Regions from separate parts of the Homo sapiens genome. Here region 1 is linked to region 2. The links come from fine-mapping of genetic effects on gene expression. Tissue or cell type: whole blood. Region 2 holds a variant in brackets; the other region holds the start of a gene. All regions are shown on one strand. Distances are from middle to middle.

Region 1 (10,499 bases), 26 kb before region 2:
CCATAACATTGCACTACAAGGACTTCTATTCCGGTCCATGGGGATCATGTCTGTTTTGGTCACACTGTATCTCTTCTGGTGCCTAACATAATATTTAGCACAACTAGGCAGGCAACCAGTGACCACATGAATGAATGAACGCATGCATAGATGACACAGCTGGCATTCTCAGAATTAGATTCTGCTGCCTACCATAAACTCAAATTAATGTTTGTGTAAACATTTTTTTCTAGAGGGGAAGTAAAGGCACAGCAACCTTAGGTTTATACCCGAGAGCAAACCATCACTCTACGCACTCGCACACATATCCATGTCACTATCTGTACATTCTTACTCACGCTGCTTGACACCATGGGGCTATTTCGTAAAAAAAAAAAAAAAAAAAAAAAAAAAAGAAAAAAAAGAAAGGATTGAATCATAGGCAACTTTTTATTTTTTTACCAGAAAAAAAAAATGTAATAGGACAAGGCACAGCTCTTCTGAATATCTTCCAAAATGTAATGAACAAACACAGCATCACCTTCAAATCCTCTGTGGCCTGGGGAGGTGCTTGGCCTCTAGAAGAGAGGCCTCTAATAATCAGATCAAATCCCAGCATTCCTAAACAAGGAAACAAGGCCACCTTCCATAATCACCAACATCACTCCCCGCTGGGTAATCCATAGGAGCCCTTAATCATGACGCTATGGGAAATGGTATTTGCATGTGATGTAATCATTTATATGGAATCATGTCTATTCACTCATGAAATTTTAAAAGTCTGCATCAGGAGTAAATGACAATGAAGTTCTTCCTTCCTAGTTTGGAAATTTGTCTCTAATGAAAAATTTCTTAACCACAGTAGTCAGCAAATGACTACGATTGTTAAACAGGCACATCCCAAGCAATCCCAGGCCTGCCTCTTGGCCAATGCCAACACATAACAGTGGCATCGATGAAAACTCTCCCAGGCAAGATAAAAGAGGAAGGTTCTAAAACCAGACAGCCTGTGCTTGAATCCCGGCTGAACCACTTTCCAGCTGTGTGACTACGGACAATTTCCTATTTCTCTTTCAGTTTTCTCACATTTAAATCCAGTTGATCATAGCCCTGCGTTACCCAGGGTTTGTACCGAAGATTAAGAGTTAATATTTCTTAGCAAAATGCCTGGCACAACCTGAGAGCTCAATAAATGTTAGTGATAGTAATACAAATTATCATATTACAACACTAATATATTACTATTATTATTAATTTCAGTTCCCTCCCAGTGATCTCCATAAGGGATTCCATGCCCTATCTGTTCTCTTAAATATTAAGACCAGTGGTTTTCAGATTTTAGCATGCACCAGAATCATCCGGAGGGCTTCTTAAAGCACAGATTACTGTGCTCTAGACGCAGAGCTCCTAATGCGGGGTGCCTGAGAACGTGCATTTCTAACAAGTTAATCTCAGGTACGTAGGTGCTGCCGGACTCGAAGAACATCAGTGGAGGAGAATGAATGAGTCTAAACCACCAGGGATTTTTTTTTTTTTTTGAGACGGAGTTTCGCTCTTGTCTCCCAGGCTGGAATGCAATGGTGCAATCTTGGCTCACTGCTGCAACCTCCGCCTCCCAAGTTCAAGCCATTCTCCTACCTCAGCCTCCCAATTACCTAGGATTATAGGCACTGCCACCACACCGGACTAATTTTTGTACTTTTAGTAGAGATGGGATTTCGCCATATTGGCCAGGCCGGTCTCGAACTCCTGACCTCAGGTGATCCACCCAACTCGGCCTCCCAAAGTGCTGGGATTACAGGCGTGAGCCACTGTGCCCGACCACCACCAGGGCTTTTAATGGCTCTCTGCTCACTTAGAATGACCCTCCTGGACTCCATCAGAGTAACTCCAAACTCAGCTCAAGCCATCAGGAACCCTCCAAGGCCCCTGTGGCATCTCTATGCAAGCCTATAACAAAGCACTGTGATCAATGAAATCAGCTCCATGAGACTGGGAGTTCTTGACAATCAGGACTTCGCCTTACTCAGGACTTGGGACATTAGAAAACTCCCAATAAATGGTGACTGATAGTTGGAAAAGCCAATGGCCAAAGGCATCCCTGAGAAACAAACCAACCTGGAAAGTCTTGAAGACCAGCTCTCAGAATTGTTCGTTGGACATGAGTGTCCAGAGTGTCTCTGCTGTCCCATCCAGCAGTCTCTTCTCTGCTCAGTGGAGCATGAGTCCTTTGCCTTTAACCACAACTTTCCCTCTCACTCTTTGAGGGTAACAGAGCTTCAACTTTGGGCTTCTCACTAGCAGGGCCCCCCGTGGGTGTGACAAGCTGCTGGGAAATGCTGAGTGTTCTCAGGGAGAGGGGAAGCCGGATTGCAATCAGCACTCCTGTTTTTGTAAGCATTTCTGGTAAATTGCCCAAGATCTCCACAGAAACAGGCAGAAATCTCCAGTAAATTATCATCTCTTTTTCTCATTTTAAATACATATTCACTTTCACACCTAATTTTGTATTAATTTTCTTAAAGAGAGTCTCCAAATTGTTTACCTTTTAGGCCTCACAAAACTTGGAACTGCCCCTGCTTCATATCCCCTACATACTCTCCTCCTTCATCACCCACCCTGGTTCCCCATGAGAACACCTTACCAGGTCAGGCACACTTTTATAAACACCTTCTAGGAAGGACTTAACAGCTCAGCTCCTAAAGAGGAGTTTAAGGTGTCTGGCTGTTTCACCTCCACGTGAAGATAGAGGGAAAAAAAAAATCTGTGCCAAGATTGACGCAGGCAAAATATTCTACCTGATCCTCGCTTCACGGGCAAAGCCTTTTCTCAACAGTTAACTGGCAACAATTCAAGGTAATTTAAATATAAAACCCCTTCCATTTCTGTGTGTAATTACCAACAATTACAAGAAAAGTTTTAAGAAAGCAAGTGTTTTCCACAACAAGAAATATTATTTGAATTCAGAGTACTATTTTTCACTCACTTTCCATTCTCCACAGTATAATAATTTTAATTTGAAAATTACTTTCCTGGTTTACATGCACTTAAAGAAATTGTCAGTTGTTATAAATCCTTTATGCAAAAGTCAAATAAGGAACTTGATTCCTCGCCAGATCATCACATTGCAGTACTCTACAATTTCCAGAAGTAGTACTTCTGGAAATAGGTTTAAGGAAAAATATATATTCGTGTGTGAGCACAGGTTTACACAAACACAAAGTCCTTTCCAGGTGACAAGAGACCGCTAATCATCTTGCAGCTGTAAGAAATCAAGCTGAAATTGATTTCAAAGCCCACTCAGCTGAGAAACTCACCTCTGCAGGAGGAGACCATAGTAAAGCACACCAATAATAGGAAATTAGCTGTTCCTTCCATGTATAACACAGAGAGAATATATATGCAATTTTATTAATTGGCCCTGTTTGGATATATCAGGCCTTTCAAAATATGTTAAGAGACATAATAAATTTTATCTTTTAACATATTTTGAAAGGCCTTTCAAAATATGTTAAGACACATAATAAATTTTATCTTTTAAAGCTACATCTACTAGTCACAGATAGGTCACAGCTTGACCACACAAGTGCAATGAAAACAGTGCTCACTTCATTCCTGAGGACTACTTTAACTCCATTAATCCCCAGGAGATAGGATCTATGAATATAAATTTGAATTCTTATATTAAATCTGCCGGATTTACACTCTCCATCTTAGAGACAGCATGGAATAGTGAAAAAGTACGAGTTCTGCACTCAGAAATAGCCACATGCAATTTCTAAATTCACCACTGACCTTGTACAAATTACTGGACTCCTCTCTGCCTCAGTTCCTTATCTGCACAGGGGAATAGTATCTACTTTGTAGATTTCATAGACAAGACAAAGTGCCTAGCATGGTGCTTGGCACAGAGCTAATTCTTAATAATCTTATTTTAAGCATGGTTTTGACAATTTTTATTGCTTTGGAATGACTGATCAGGCTAATGACAGAGACTCTTCAAAGATTTACATTCTCCCTGCATTTAAATACTTATAACCAGCGATTACACAGGTGCTGCTGAGGCAAAGCGCAGCACCATTGGTCTCGTTCTAAACACCCACCTGTGAGGAATAAGTGCCTTAAGATTCCCCTTTGTATTAATATCAACACCTGTGCTACCCAACAGCACACCAGCCCGGCTCTCAGAGGTCTGCCCGTTAACAGGTGTACAATAAATATTTGTTGAATTGAAATGCTACTGACTCAAGCAAAAAATGAATGCTAATGTAAATTATAATCCATACAAATCCTTCAATAAGTGGTGTCTGAATTCTGTGCGTCCTGAAGCAAGTGTTCTAACGTCTCACGGTTCACTGAGAAGCTGCTTGGTACCTTAAGGGTTCGCACCCTTGTACCTTCCAGACCAAGCTCTTGTAAGCATCTAGAGGAGGCTGAAACCCTCAGTCAGCATCGCACAGAAGTTCATTCAGACTAGAGAAAACCTCTTTTATGGCAACCCAATCATTTAAAAAAAGCCGTCAGCACATTTGCTTAACAAATGGACAGTGCAGGAGGGAACTAATTGCGGAAACTAATCGCCACTCAAGTTCACCACCAACATCACTGTCTTTATTTTTAACTTACTTATCTTCAGTGGGATTGAGACACTGTTTGTTACCTACGCAATTATCCCAAGGATTTCTGCTCCGGTGTCGTTGAGCAAATGTCAGCGCAAAGAATTAAAGTTGAACCTCCGGGTCTCTACGAAGAGAGCGTATTAAAGCCCACCCAGCTGAGGAACTGACCTCTGTGGAAGGAGTCCTGGATGTGGCGGTGACTACCTCCGTAGCGCCCCGGGGAGACTGAATGTGTGGCCTTTAAAATGCAAAGAAATTCTGGGCCAGGCTGCCCTCCCCTAGTGCGCCTTCCAGTACGCCACGCCTGGATTTCTGCCTCCAGTCCTCAGGACACCTTTCTGATCTCTGAACCACAAGCAGCTCCGGGGTAGTAGCGCCACTGAATTCTCATCCTGGACCCTCCAGCTCCCCAACTCCCAGCTTCGGTTGAGAGAAGACGCCCACCCCCAGGCGGCGACCGTGCTGCCCGGCCCACGCGCGCTGCCAGGTGAACCCGGCACCGCCCTCACCTGTGCGAGGCCGCGTTCGGGGGCTGCAAAGCTGGGCAGGCGCGCGCCCCTCACCTGCACCGGACCCGCTGCAGTCGCCACTCGGAAGCGCAGGGAGCAACCCTGACGCGGCGGGGGCGGGGGCATCACCGAGGGCCCCCGGACTTCCTCGGGCCCCCCCACCGCCCTTGCGAGCCCCGCCTAAAGGGGAGGAGGCGGCCGCGCGTCACCTTTGAGCAGCCTCCGACCCAAGCGCCCGCGCTGCCGCCGGGAGCTCGGCCGGGTGTTGCAAGGAGGCGCTATGCTTGGTGCTGGGCACTGGCTGGGCGTAGAGAAGGCGATTACTTGTAACTCATTCGTTTGGGTTGGCTCACAGGAAAAGGAAGGTGTGTCCAAAAAGTCCGAAGTGAGGAAATAGGACGAGGATGGCTTGCAAACTCGTAAAGTCTTAATAAGCTGTCTTCGCTGATACTCAGAAGGGTTCTCTTCGCTCCTGTAGGTCCCTAATAGATTCATGGGAAGACAGCAGCCTCCCTTTGTAACGCCCTGACCCTGGGAAGAGGTACCCGAGCCAGACAGCCTATTAACCTATGCCACGTGTGCGCGACTGTGGGTGGAAGATGCCCGCCCAGATCCACAGAACTGTTTCCTGAGCCTTGGTGCCTCATCTATGAGATAAGGCCGGCGTACTGCTCAGCAAGCCGTCCCGAGTACTCGGCAGAGAACCCTAAAGACCCTCCCGTGCGATTGTTGGCACTCAGCGAATATTTGCTATTTATTTCCCCTTTCCCTTACTTTCTTTTTCTACTTTTTTTTACGCCGCTTTCCTGCTGTAATTGTCTTATTGCACTTTGTTTGCTCGGTTTCACTGCCTGGTCAGTTTCTTTTCCCGTCTATGAACGAGCCTAAGTCTGTGCGCTCTAGGAATTTGGGTGGATTAGGAAAAGAAATGTATGATCCATGCCTTCTGGGAGATCAGGGACTCATCTCTGGGAAATAGCATTTTTAAATTAGATACAAGAGAGTTACAGAAAATAACCTTAAAACGGGAATGGGACCTCTGGGAATAGGCGAGCTCTGAAATGAAGCGTTTAGTTGGTGTCACTGGTGATTAAGAGCTCCGGCTTTGGAGTCAGACCTCAAATCAAATTCTGCCTGGGCAACTAATTGTGTAAATGGACGAGTTCACTTAACCTCTCTAAATTTTAACTTCAACAAACTGGTTGTTTAAATAGCTTAAAATAGCTTAAATAGCTTAAAATAATAGCTATCTCATACTTTCTGAGAAATTAATTAGGTAATTCACATAAAATCCTCATTACAGTGTCCTGGGCCATGGTAACCACTTAATAAAAGTTAGCTATTAACAATACTAAGGTAGGAAATGGGAGGAAGGGGCATAAAAATTTAGAAAACATGAGGACGTGATAGAAAACAGCTGCCACTGTCATGCAATTCCGACTTACAACAATAGCTACCACTGAGGAACACAACTTCGCACCAGTTTCTGTGATTGGCATGTAACACGTGATCATATTGAATTTTCACAAACCAGGAGACAGTTAATAAAATCTCTGATTCAAGATGAGGAAAATGAGCATCAGAACCATGAAATAACCTGCCTGAAGCTATGAGTCAAGTTAGTAGCCGAGTCAGAGCAAGCTGAGGCCTATGGCAAAATTGGCTTTTCCCACCGTGCCGAAGGTTACATCCCCTAGCAGAGAACAGAGAGAGGTAAGGGTAAAACAGCATGAAAGGAAGAAGAGAAAGAGCAGTAGGCAGACGAAGCAATCATACCTTTAAAGCTGACTAAGAATACAAATGAATTAAAATAGTAAGTGAACCCACACAAAAGCTTTTTTGCCTTTAACTCCTGCCCCAGTGGAGTTCCTGTTCTGTGGTTCCGGCAGTCCAACCGCATTTTTCAATCATTAAATGGTATAGAAAGTGAAACAACTAAAGATACAGAAATCTAAGGTCACAACTTGCCCTTCCCACCACAATACACTCATCTGCCCAGCTTCCTGGGTTTTTTGTTTTTAATTGTTCAAACATATTACCTGTCTCCTTTTCTATGTTCCACCCAGGAAATGTCCCTTCCAGGGAATAATATTGTTGCTTATACCAATTTAACTTTACTACATAACCACACCAGCATTTAGAATGGCAACTGGACTCATACATGTAGCTGATAAATTTTTAACACACTTTTGTTATATTGAATTTCTCTAAACAGATTTTGAACCAGGTCTTACATTATAGGCACTGGTCAGTGATGTCATAATTATACTTAAAAAAAAATAAAATCTCCTGCACGTATCATAGGCAGCTTTCTCTCTCTTCTGAGCAACCAGATATTTGGCCTCTGAAGAAATGCCCCTATTGTCAATGTGATAATTGAGGTGGAGATTTCCCACTTTCAGATACAATTGCTTTTATATCTTAGACAATGTATGTTTGGTTGCATGACAATCTAATATTGGCACCTCTTCTTTTAAATTGTAAATGGAAGATGTGTCTTCTGAAGGCCCAGTGTACTCCTTGGCTATCATGGCTATACTGCCTGTCATACATGCAGAAGCACGGTTAAGTGCATACAAAGGCTAGATAACAATTAGTGCAGTTATCTAGCCACGTCCCTGTGCCTTTTTGAATGAGCCAGAGTATTTCAAATGAAACAAATGAAAATTGCTGTAGCCACCCAGAGTCTTTGACAATGAGGGTTAAAGCAGTCTTCTCTAAAGAAGACAAGACCCTGTCTGTAAATGCATAGGATCTAGAGTTCCATATCTTCTCTGCTCAGTGGGAGCCTCCTTGGGTCATCCTATCAGAGTTGGCCATGCAGTCAACACAGTCTGGCTCCATTTGGAGGACACAGAGCTAATCTTGCTGGGACAAGTCCCTTTATGTCAAAGAGAAAGCTGTCTGAGATCTGCTAGCAGTAATGTAAGGGCTTGGCACCTAGCTTCCCTCACATTTTCCTTCGTTGGTGCTTCTCATCATTTCTGGGCCGATAAGAGCAGAAGTAGAAAAATGACTGAGACATAAACATGTCAATTTAGATCTACCAGGGGTTAAAACGAATATAATGGTTAAAGCAAACTTCAGTCTATTGTCCAAGTAACAAATGTTTATTTTAGTGTGTGCTTTAAGGAAGAATATGCACTCTGTTACGTGGCGTTGAGAAATGGTACTTCTTTTATTGTTAGTGCAAATAGTCTTTGTTATTATATGTACTCAGGATTTTTTTTCCTTTGGTATAATTATCATGTTATCCCCTTTTTATAGGCAGGTGTGGAGAGACCAAATTTAGTGACTCACTCCAGACCTAGCTCTGCCACTTACTAGTTACGAGTTTATCCTGTAGGCTTCACTTTCTTGAACAAAAGAATGGACCTAACAGAAAATGAGTCCTATTCTCTAATTATTCAGAAAGACTTCTTATAAAATCTCTTTGGAAATCAACATCAGCATTGAATTGTCCTAATGATGATTCTATGTATCAAGTTCTTTTCTTTCAAATACCTAAACATGTATTTAACACAAGCTGATTAGCTGGAAATGTTCACAGGTAGTAAGTTGTTCAAAGATCGACTTTTATGGATGTTGTACCTTTATTGGGTGGGAACTTTTATGGCCAAAATGAACATCTGGTAGTGGTTGCTTCTGAAAAGTTAAAATTATTAGAGGCTTGGAGTTAACTCTTAAGAGACTGAGTCTGCCATTCATTAGATGGGTAAAGAAGAACCAAATTTACTTCTTCAGATGAAGGTTAACTTTGCCCAAGATTACTATCTCAGTACCAACATTTTTGTCTGACGATCTGAATTTCATTCAGTTAATTGCTTAAAACTTCCCCTAGGCCAGGGGAGAGGTTCATACTGTAGAGAATTTCTGTGGCCCCAAATCACATTTATTGAATTGTTCTCTAGTGTGTTGTCATTGGCAATAGTGGGGGGTATCTTAAGAATCTACCTTGGGAAATACGTTGTTGAACATACATTTGGCATGTTGGTCGGGGTCATTGTTTTTTAAAATTACACTGCCTGTTTTAAGATGATCCAAGGTAGAAGTTATCACTCATCTCAGATACAAAAATCTTGAGCTTTTCCACAACAAATGGTTTGTTTGCATCTTATGGGTTCTGCAAATAACACAGTTGAATTTGTTTTCCTCTCTAATTGAGCCACTAGAATGCACAGAGTGGCTCACCTCTGGCAAGTATTCAGAAATGCTTATTTGTGCATTGCACATTACAGTTATCTGTTTTTCTACCTGTATTTTCCAAAATGAGAGATGAAACTAGGGGAATTTTCAGGACAAGAATATTTAGATAACAATCAATTCTCCATGCAAAATAAGAAGTACATTCATTGATGTATTCATTCACATAATTAGCATGTATTCATCATCTACAACCAGGACCACAAACTAGGGTGCCTACATGGGTGAGACTGGTGAAATAGAGATTGACTGTGGTCACATATAAGAAGATAGAGACTGTGGCAAATAGCAGAGAGTAGGCCCACCTAAAGACATTCAAATTTACTTATTGTTAACCCTGTGCTGGCTAAAAAATACAGGTGGCCGAAAGCCTGGCAACCAGTTTGAATCCCCTGATCCATATATTAAGCTCTGTGATAAACTCTGTGGATATAACACAAATATGATAGCTTCTGCCCTCCAATGGCTCACATTTTCGCTAGATGTGTAAACAGATAAACACAATAGAGTGTCAGAGTGAAGAGGCCTTGATAGTAGCACCTGCAGAGCCCAGCAAGTGGTGTAAAAAACCAGGTAGAAAATACACCAGAGAATCAGCAGAAACCGGGACCCCAGTCAGTCCCAAGTGATGAAAAAAGGGAGTCTTCATGGGTGAAACCTGGCTTACACAATTGAGATAAGTACAGACTCAACTGGCAGACAAAGATCAGTTCAATAAATGAAGCCAGCCATCTAGCAGTATTTCCATAATCTTAATCAGAAAATCAAAATATAGACAAATGTGGAGAAATAATAACTATGTCTATGGCTGAGGACATTAACAAATTTTGGACTTGACGTCTCCAGTCTGTCTTTGTGACTGGTTGGGATGTATAATTTGCATAAGTTTTCATTCATCCAGTCTCCCATTACTGCCTCTAATGATAACCTACAAAGAAAGTACAACATCACTAATTAATGGATTGAAAAGTAGTCAGGAAATAGACAAGGTCTTATTAAGTGCATAAGGACATTTGCAAACCAACCTGGTAGGCACCTGCCTGCTTTACTGATTTTTTTTTAGGCACGTCTTTGTAGTGACAATTGTTGCCACTTCCTGAAAAAATCCAAAGTAGAAAATAAGACAGTAAGTAATCTGACCTTAAGACTAAGTTAATTTCTTAATTTCTTAATTTCCAGTATGTGCTAA
Region 2 (10,499 bases):
AATCAATGAATCCAGGAGCTGGTTTTTTGAAAAGATCAACAAAATTGATAGAGCGCTAGCAAGACTAATAAAGAAGAAAAGAGAGAAGAATCAAATAGACGCAATAAAAAATGATAAAGGGGATATCGCCACCGATCCCACAGAAATACAAACTACCATCAGAGATTACTATAAACACCTCTATGCAAATAAACTAGAAAATCTAGAAGAAATGGATAAATTCCTCAACACACACTCTCCCAAGACTAAACCAGGAAGAAGTTGAATCTCTGAATAGACCAATAACAGGCTCTGAAATTGGGGCAATAATTAATAGCTTACCAACCAAAAAAAGTCCAGGACCAGATGGATTCACAGCCGAATTCTACCAGAGGTACAAGGAGGAGCTGGTACCATTCCTTCTGAAACTATTCCAATCAATAGGAAAAGAGGGAATCCTCCCTAACTCATTTTATGAGGCCAGCATCATCCTGATACCAAAGCCTAGCAGAGACACAACCAAAAAAGAGAATTTTAGACCAATATCTTTGATGAACATTGATGCAAAAATCCTCAATAAAATACTGGCAAACTGAATACAGCAACACATCAAAAGGCTTATCCACCATGATCAAGTGGGCTTCATCCCTGGGATGCAAGGCTGGTTCAACATACGAAAATCAATAAACATAATCCGGCATATAAACAGAACCAAAGACGAAAACCACATGATTATCTCAATAGATGCAGAAAAGACCTTTGACAAAATTCAACAACACTTCATGCTAAAAACTCTTAATAAATTAGGTACTGATGGGACGTATCTCAAAATAATAAGAGCTATCTATGACAAACCCACAGCCAATATCATATGGAATGGACAAAAACTGGAAGCATTCCCTTTGAAAACTGGCACAAGACAGGGATGCCCTCTCTCACCACTCCTATTCAACATAGTGTTGGAAGTTCTGGCCAGGGCAATCAGGCAGGAGAAGGAAATAAAGGGCATTCAATTAGGAAAAGAGGAAGTCAAATTGTCCCTGTTTGCAGATGACGTGATTGTATATCTAGAAAACCCCATCATCTCAGCCCAAAGTCTCCTTAAGCTGATAAACAACTTCAGCAAAGTCTCAGGATACAAAATCAATGTGCAAAAATCACAAGCATTCTTATACACCAATAACAGACAGAGAGCCAAATCATGAATGAACGCCCATTCACAATTGCTTCAAAGAGAATAAAATACCTAGGAATCCAACTTACAAGGGATGTGAAGGACCTCTTCAAGGAGAACTACAAACCACTGCTCAATGAAATAAAAGAGGATACAAACAAATGGAAGAACATTCCATGCTCATGGGTAGGAAGAATCAATATCATGAAAATGGCCATACTGCCCAAGGTAATTTATAGATTCATTGCCATCCCCATCAAGCTACCAATGACTTTCTTCACAGAATTGGAAAAAACTACTTTAAAGTTCATATGGAACCAAAAAAGAGCCTGCATTGCCAAGTCAATCCTAAGCCAAAAGAACAAAGCTGGAGGCATCACACTACTTGACTTCAAACTATACTACAAGGCTGCAGTAACCAAAACAGCATGGTACTGGTACCAAAACAGAGATATAGACCAATGGAACAGAACGGAGCCCTCAGGAATAATGCCACATATCTACAACTATCTCATCTTTGACAAACCTGACAAAAACAAGAAATGGGGAAAGGATTCCCTATTTAATAAACGGTGCTGGGAAAACTGGCTAGCCATATGGGGAAAGCTGAAACTGGACCCCTTCCTTGCACCTTATACAAAAATTAATTCAAGATGGATTAAAGACTTACATGTTAGACCTAAAACCATAAAAACCCTAGAAGAAAACCTAGGCAATACCATTCAGGACATAGGCATGGGCAAGGACTTCATGTCTAAAACACCAAAAGCAATGGCAACAAAAGACAAAATTGATAAATGGGATCTAATCCAACTAAAGAGCTTCTACATAGCAAAAGAAACCACCATCAGAGTGAACAGGCAACCTACAGAATGGAAGAAAATTTTTGCAACCTACTCATCTGACAAAGGGCTAATATCCAGAATCTACTTTGAACTCAAACAAATTTATAAGAAAAAAACAAACAATCCCATCAACAAGTGGGCGAAGGATATGAACAGACACTTCTCAAAAGAAGACATTTATGCAGCCAAAAAACACATGAAAAAATGCTCATCATCACTGGTCATCAGAGAAATGCAAATCAAAACCACAATGAGATACCATCTCACACCAGTTAGAATGGCAATCATTAAAAAGTCAGGAAACAACAGGTGCTGGAGAGGATGTGGAGAAATAGGAACACTTTTACACTGTTGGTGGGACTATAAACTACTTCAACCATTGTGGAATTCGGTGTGGTGATTCCTCAGGGATCTAGAACTAGAAATACCATTTGACCCAGCCATCCCATTACTGGGTATATACCCAAAGGATTGTAAGTCATACTGCTATAAAGACACATGCACACGTATGTTTATTGCGGCACTATTCACAATAGCAAAGACTTGGAACCAAGCCAAATGTCCAACAATGATAGACTGGATTAAGAATATGTGGCACATATACACCATGGAATACTATGCAGCCATATAAAATGATGAGTTCATGTCCTTTGTAGGAACATGGATGAAGCTGGAAACCATCATTCTCAGCAAACTATCACAAGGACAAAAAAACCAAACACCGCATGTTCTCACTCATAGGTGGGAATTGAACAATGAGAACACGTGGACACAGAATGGGGAACATCAAACACCGGGGACTGTTGTGGCGTGAGGGGAGGAGGGAGGGATAGCATTGGGAGAGATACCTAATACTAAATGACGAGTTGATGGGTGCAGCACACGAACATGGCAATGTATACGTATGTAACAAACCTGCACGCTGTGCACATGTACCCTAAAACTTAAAGTATAATAATTAAAAAAAATGTGTTGCAATGTTTAGAGTTACCTTAATAATTACTTGGGGAGGCCGGTTGCAGTGGCTCACACCTTTAATCCCAGCACTTTCGGAGGCCAAGGCGGACAGATCAACTGAGGTCAGGAGTTTGAGACCAGCCTGACCAACATGGTGAATCCCCATCTCTACTGAAAATACAAAAAGCCAGGCATGGTGGTGCATGCCTGTAGTCCTAGCTACTCAGGAGGCTGAGGCAGGAGAATGGCTAGAACCCAGGAGGCGGAGGTTGCAGTGAGCCAAGATCACACCATTGCACTCCAGCCTAGGCGACAGAGCGAGACTCTGTCTCAAAAAAACAAAACAAAACAAAACAAAATACATTAATTAATAATTACTTGGTGAGCTGGGATTTATTTGTATTTATATCTAATGATTCCAAAGACTACTTTTCTTCCTCACAAAGAAATCAAGATGTAGGGCAGGGACAGATGTGTCAATAATAATTATATGCCATGTGCCATGTCTATGTCTGTTTGCACAAGAGGGGCACAAAAAAATATCCAATGTGATCTCTTCACTTGTATGGCCTTTCGTGTCGCAGAGACGTACACATTTATGTTTTTCTAAAGACTTAAAAAATTTTTTAAACTATAGTTACTTGTTAGTTTCAAGTAACTTTTTGACTTTGGGCTGGGGGCTAGGGGCAAGAACACAATGGAATTCAGAACACAGAGGCAATAATTTAGAACATCATCTGCTTAGATAACTTTATTTCATTTATTCAGACATCATTCTTGTGAGCATCAAATTTTCATTTTAGACATTTAAGTTGCAATAAGGTACAAACATTCTTTCTCAGAATTATTTCTCAGCTTTTAAAATCATGTTTTTAAATTTCAGCCTAATTTTAGATTGACAGAAAAGTTGCAAAGATAGTACACAGAGTTCCTGCATATCCTTCATCTAGTTTCCCCCATGGAACCTAGATATATTTTACCATTGTAAAATACGATGGTACATTTGTCACAACTAAGAAGCGGATGCTGGTGTTTACTATTAGCCAAACACTGGGCTGTATTGGATTTCATCAGTGTTTCCATTAGCATCTATTTTGTGCTCCAGGATTCAGGCCAGGGTACCACATTGCATTTAGTTTGCATGGCTCCCCAGGCTCCTCTGCTCTGCGACAGTTTATCTGTCTTCCTTATTGTTCATTACCTTAACAGTATTGAGAAGTACCGCCCAGGAATACTGTAGAACACCTCCCCATGTGGGCTGGTCTGTCATTTTTCTTATGATTAGACTGGAGTCTACGTTTTTGGAAGAGTATCACATAGGTGAAGTGCCTTCATTGTCGCGTCATATTGTGGGGAGGCGCTATGTGATATCCACATGACATCAGTGGTCATGTTAACCTTCATCACACTATAATTTCTCAGAATTTTTAAGAGTAATTTTGGCTCTTGTTTGGTTGTTTCATCAGAAGTATGGAGATGAGAAGTTTAGAAGGTGGGTATCGTTCTCTGCTCTGCTGACAGTCTCTACTGTTCATGAGTCAGTGCCTTGGCTTTCTCTACTGTCAACGTCCTTCTCCAAACAGGAAAGGACAAGAAAAACCACCAACC[C/G]TGTTAAGTGGTGTGTGGTTTATTCCTGCACAAGCCAGAGCAGGAGGAACATGCTGGCTTCCAGTAATTCACGAAGAAGTTCTGCTAAGTCATTACTCGCCCCTCCTGTAGCAAACCCTGTAAAGCATAAGAGCATTTCCTGGGCAAATAATACATGGCCCCTTTGCAATCATGTAAAGTGCCTGTATAAGTTTTGAAATTAAGGAGACCCTGCTCGGTCTCAGAGAGATTCAGTCTCTCCCAGCCTTTCAGACTCTTCTAGTGGTCATTGGTAGGTTTAGCAGAAGTCTCTGTTGCCCTCTTTTTCTTTTTCTCTTCTTTTCTTTCTTTTTTTTTTTTTTTTTTGAGACGGAGTCTCGCTCTGTCACCCAGGCTGGAGTGCAGTGGCGGGATCTCGGCTCACTGCAAGCTCCGCCTCCCCAGTTCACGCCATTCTCCTGCCTCAGCCTCCCGAGTAGCTGGGACTACAGGCGCCCGCCACCACGCCTGGCTAGTTTTTTGTATTTTTAGTAGAGATGGGGTTTCACCGTGTTAGCCAGGATGGTCTCGATCTCCTGACCTTGTGATCCGCCCGCCTTGGCCTCCCAAAGTGCTGGGATTACAGGCGTGAGCCACCGCGCCCGGCCTCTGCTGCTCTCTTTTTGAGAATAAAAGGGTCACACCTCAGACTCTCTTCCGTGGATTCAGGTGGTGAAAGTGTTTTCTAAAATACATGTATAATGGACTAAAAATGGCAATCTCTTTCTTTTTAAGTTCTTTTTTTCTCTTCGCTTACACAGTCTGTACATAGGCAGTTTTTCTTTATAGAGATGCCAGATTTTAAGGGGAAAAAAACCGCTGCATGCATCGATCTTTTCGTATAAAACAAAACTCATTTTTAGATTAGTTTGGGAAGGGATCAAGAACAAAGGAAAATGAAAACAATTATTTATTTGTTTATTTTCTTGGAGGCTTAAAATGGGCCACGCCTACTTTCTTTTTGGAAAAATACTACAGGAAGCCGACTGTCCCGTGTTAAAGGAATATGCTCGAACAAATAAAGTGAGTTTGGCAACAGGCTGGCTGTCTCTTACACCAGCTTCTCCCAGCCTGAAGCTCAGGGGAAAGAGGGGCCCGCGTGTATGCAAATTGCAGGGATTTGTGGTAGGAATTACTTCACTGAATGACGCATTTCCCAGTGGTATCTATAGATGGGCTTTTATTGTGTTTGAGGTTTTAAGTGAAGAGTGGGAAGATTTGCACAGATAGAACCATTTAACTCAATCTAAACATAAAAAAAAATAGCCAGCCTATTAACTGGTTGAATTCAGTTTCAGTTAGACTAATTTAGAGGGAATTGTCAAAGAACTATTTTACAGACCATTGTAAACGTTAAAATCAATATCGATTCAAGTGCATTGAAGAGACAGACTCCCATTTAAATATGTTGTTATTAGAAAGGGATCCTCCACTTGTATTTGTTGTAACTCTTACTTTTAAAAAATTGAGTTATAGTTGACATAATTAAGTGTATGTATGTATATACGTATATATGTGTCCAATTTAATAAGTTTGACATATTTCTGTACCAATGAAACCATCACTCCGATTAAGGAGGGGATTACAAAAAGGCGTATGAAAGTTTTTCAGAATGATAAATATGTCTTGATTGTAGCGATGTTTGTTATTTACATTCCAAATTTTAGGAGTTTTCAAGAGATCATTCTGGTTTTGAATTCTAATTTAAGTCTCAATTTACCAAAGACACACTGCACAATATGAATAATTTAAAATTTATTGACGGTTGTTTTCTTTCTCAGATTATGGTCTGTCTTTGTAAATGTTCCGTGTATGGTACAAAAAATGTATATTCTGGTGTTTGGAGACGGGTTATTCTATAATGTCAAAAAAGTCAAGTTTGTTTATAGATTTGTTCAGTTTTCCTATATCCTAGGAAAGTCATAAAGTCTACTTATTCTATTTTATATTTCTCCCAAAATAGTTGGGATATATTATTGGGAAATATATATAATAAAATAAAAATAATAAATAATAAAAATAATTGGGATATATTATTGGTAAATATATTATATTTCTCCCAATTATTTTGGGAGAAATATAAAACTCTCTATTTTTGTGATTTTGTCTTTTTCCTTACAGTTCTAGCAGATTTTGTTTTATAAATTTTGAAGTTATTTTATGCAGAACATACACATTTCAGATTCTTTTGTCCTCCTGACTAGTTGACATTTTTATTATCAGGAAATTAACTTATTTATCACTAGTAATATTCTTTGTTTGAGATCTACTTTGTAGGATATTAATATAGCTATTACAATTATTTTTAGTGATAGCATGGTATATCTCTTTCATCCTTTTATTTATTTTTTAAAAAGACTTCATTTTTAAAGAGCAGTTTTAGGTTCACAGTAAAACTGAGAAAAATGTACAGAGGATTTTTGTGTAGACCTTGCCTCCACACATGCATAGACCCCCACAATATCTACATCCTCCACAAGAGTGGCATATGTGTTACAACTGATGAGCCTACATTGTTGCATCACTATCATTCAAAGTCCATAGTTTACATTAGGATTTAGTCTTGGAGCTATACATTCTATGGATTTGGACAAATGTATAATGCATACAGTTAGAGTATCACACAGAGTAGTTTCAGTGCCCTAAAAATCCTCTATGCTCTACCTCTTCATCTCTCCCTCTTCCCTATTTCCAGGAAACTACAATCCTTTTACTGTTTCCATGGTTTTGCTTTTTCCAGAATGTCATATAGTTGGAATTATACAGCATGTAGCTTCTTCAGATTTTCATTTCTGTGGTGACATATGACATGGAACATACTTTCATATGCTTATTTACCATCTGTATTTCTTATTTGGTGAGCTGTCTGTGAAGGTCTTTGATCCATATTTTAATCAGGTATTTGTTGTCGTATTATTGAGTTTTAAGAGTTCTTTGCATATTTTGGATTACTTGTGAGAAACACACTCACCCATCCAAACCCAAAGAATGGACTTAGAGGCACAAAGAACAGCAAACGGTCTTGCAAGATCAGGTGTCTGATAGGCAGGCACATCCTGGGCAGTCACAACAGGTAATTTATCTCCTAGCATGCAAGTCCCTCCCCCAGTTCCTTATTGGTCAAGTACTATGGGGTTACAATCTTCCCAGACGTCACCTAAGTTTTATTATTTCCCTTATAAGGTTATATGCCATCCCAGTCCCCGCTTAAGTTTTGATTTCCCAATAATGAAACTTTCTTCCCTTTTATGGGCTGACCCCTCCTCTACATTCTATTCACTTACTGTGACCTTCTAGGTTCATGAGCCATGCAATTTGTTACATTTGCAGGCTGGCTGCCAGTACTTAGACTTATCATGCCTTGAAAGTGGACCATTTAAAATGTTTTCTCACATTACTGTCCTTTAACCAGATTTGTCTTTTGCAAATATTTTACCCCAGTCTGTGGCTTACCTTTTCATTCTCTTGTCAATGTCTTTTGCAGAGCCGAAATCTTTACTTTTAATAAAATTCGGCTTAACAACTTTTTGTCGTGGATTGTGTCTTTGACATCGTACCTAAAAAGTTTTCTCTGAACCAAAGGTAATTTTCATTTTCTCCTACGTTGTCATCGAGGTGTTTTATAATTTTGCATTCTGCATTTAGGTCTGTGGATTACTTTGAGTTAATTTTTGTTAAGGGTATTAGGTCTGCATCTCAATTTGGGGGTTTTTGTCTGTTCATTTTGGTTTGTTTTTTTGTTTCTGTGCATTTGGATGTCCAGTTGTTCTGGTGCCACTTGTTGAAAGAAACGATCTTTGCTTATTGGATTATTGTTCCTTTGTCAATCATCAGTGGGTTATATTTATGTGAGTCTATTTCTGGCCTCTCTCTTCTGTTCAATGGATCTATTTTTCTATTCTTTCACAATACCACACTGTCTTAATTACTCTAGCTTTAAAGTAAGTCTTGAAGTCAGGTAGTGTCAGTCCTCTAAGTTTGTTCTTCTCCTTCAGTATTATGTTGAATATTCTGGGTCTTTTGCCCATACTTTTTATATTTTTGTGTCTTTATAAAGTTTTTTTTTTAGGCAGCATGTAGGTAGCTCCTGCATTTTTATCCAACTTTACATTTTAATTTTTAATTGGTGTCTCTGACAATTTATATTTAATGTGATTATTGGTTTTATTAGGTTTCAATATATCATCTTTCTACTTATTTCCTATTTGTCCTCTCTGTTCCTTGTTTCCGTTTCTTCTTTTTGTAACTTCTTTGGAATTAGTTGAGTGTGTGTGTATGTGTGTGTGTGTGTGTATATATATATATTTTTTGAGATGGGGTCTCGCTCTGTCACCCAGGCTGGAGTGCAGTGGCGCGATCTTGGCGCACTGCAACCTCTGCCTCCTGGGTTCAAGCAATTCTCCTGCCTCAGCGTCCCGAGTAGCTGGGACTACATGCGCCCGCCACCATGCCCAGCTAATTTTTATATTTTTAGTAGAGACAGGGTTAAACCATATTGGCCAGGCTGGTCTCGAACTCCTGACCTTGTGATCCGTCCACCTCAGCCTCCCAAAGTGCTGGGATTACAGACGTGAGCCACTGCTCTCAGCCGAGTATATTTTTTTTATGATTCCATTTTGTCTTCTTTTAGATTAATTAGCTATACTCTTTGTTTTATTTTAGTCTTTTTCTAGAATGTGTCTTGAACTTATCACAGCCTACCTTCAAGTGATATTATACCACTTTATGTAAGTATAGAAGCTTTGTAATAATTTTCTATTTCTCATCTCCTGATTTTTGTGCTATTGTTCTGTATTTTACTTAAGAATAAAACTGAACAAAGGTAAAGGAAGGAAGAAAGGAAGAAAATAAAGGAAGGAAGCAAGAGAAGAGGCCGGGCGCGGTGGCTCACGCCTGTAATCCCAGCACTTTGGGAGGCCGAGGCGGGTGGATCATGAGGTCAGGAGATCGAGACCATCCTGGCTAACAAGGTGAAACCCCGTCTCTACTAAAAATACAAAAAATTAGCCGGGCGCGGTGGCAGGCGCCTGTAGTCCCAGCTACTCGGGAGGCTGAGGCAGGAGAATGGCGTGAACCCGGGAAGCGGAGCTTGCAGTGAGCCGAGATTGCGCCACTGCAGTCCGCAGTCCGACCTGGGCGACAGAGCGAGACTCCGTCTCAAAAAAAAAAAAAAAAAAAAAAAAAAAAAAGAGAAGAAAGAGAGACAAAACAGAATAGAACTGTAATTCCTTATCTGCAATTCAGAAATACAACAAGCTCTGAAAAAAACATAAGAATTTGATGACACAGTTTACAGGGATAATTGACACAATCTGAGTTAGTTTGGTGGCAAAGCCTGAACTAACATGCCATGAGGCAAGTTCTAGTCTTCATTTATACCTCTCCGTATAATTATTCATATATTTTTCTATAGAAAGTTGTGTCAAAAATTAACCTAACAGGCCTGAAACTGCTACTGTTAGAAAGCCCTGCTTACATGATTGGCCCTCGACTGGCATCTGGGAACTTAGATTTTAGGAGGGTCCCTACCATTCCTTAAGATATAAGAGGGACTCACTGTCCCTAAACAGTTTATACAATGTGGTTTATGCTGAAAACTTGTTTTTCTTCTGGGAGTCTGGAGTTTTGGTAAATGCTAGGCAGAGTGTATTTATGTGCCTAGTCCCCAATAAAAACACAGAGTACTGAGTCCCTAATGACCTTCTCTGGCGGACAACACTTCACATGGCTTGCAACAACTTGTTGCCAGAGAAATTAAGCGCATCCTGCGTGACTCCTCGGGGACAGGGCTCCTGGAATCTTATTGCTAGTTTCCTCTGGATTTCACTGTGTTAACCTGTTTCCCTTTGCTGATTTTTCATTGTATCCTTTTGTGGTAATAAATCATAGCAAGGAATATGAATATATGCTGAGTCTCA

Evidence for each region. PIP is the estimated chance that this variant, and not a neighbour inherited with it, causes the effect.
Region 1: MCTP2 starts here. The variant in region 2 is fine-mapped to the expression of MCTP2 in whole blood (INTERVAL, PIP above 0.99). The same link has a PIP of 0.9 or more in blood mononuclear cells, esophagus mucosa, monocytes and thyroid.

The regions. Positions count from the first base shown.
Region 1 is chr15:94,226,273-94,236,771 of GRCh38, reverse strand. It overlaps MCTP2 (multiple C2 and transmembrane domain containing 2), which reads right to left and starts at 5,211. Exons shown (of 23, transcript NM_001385001.1): 1 at 5,108-5,211. RefSeq lists a silencer at 5,152-5,281 and an enhancer at 6,817-6,956.
Region 2 is chr15:94,200,751-94,211,249 of GRCh38, reverse strand. LOC105370984 (a long non-coding RNA gene) reads left to right here and starts at 4,360. Exons shown (of 2, transcript XR_932640.1): 1 at 4,360-4,447. The variant C/G (reference allele first, on the strand shown) is at 4,564.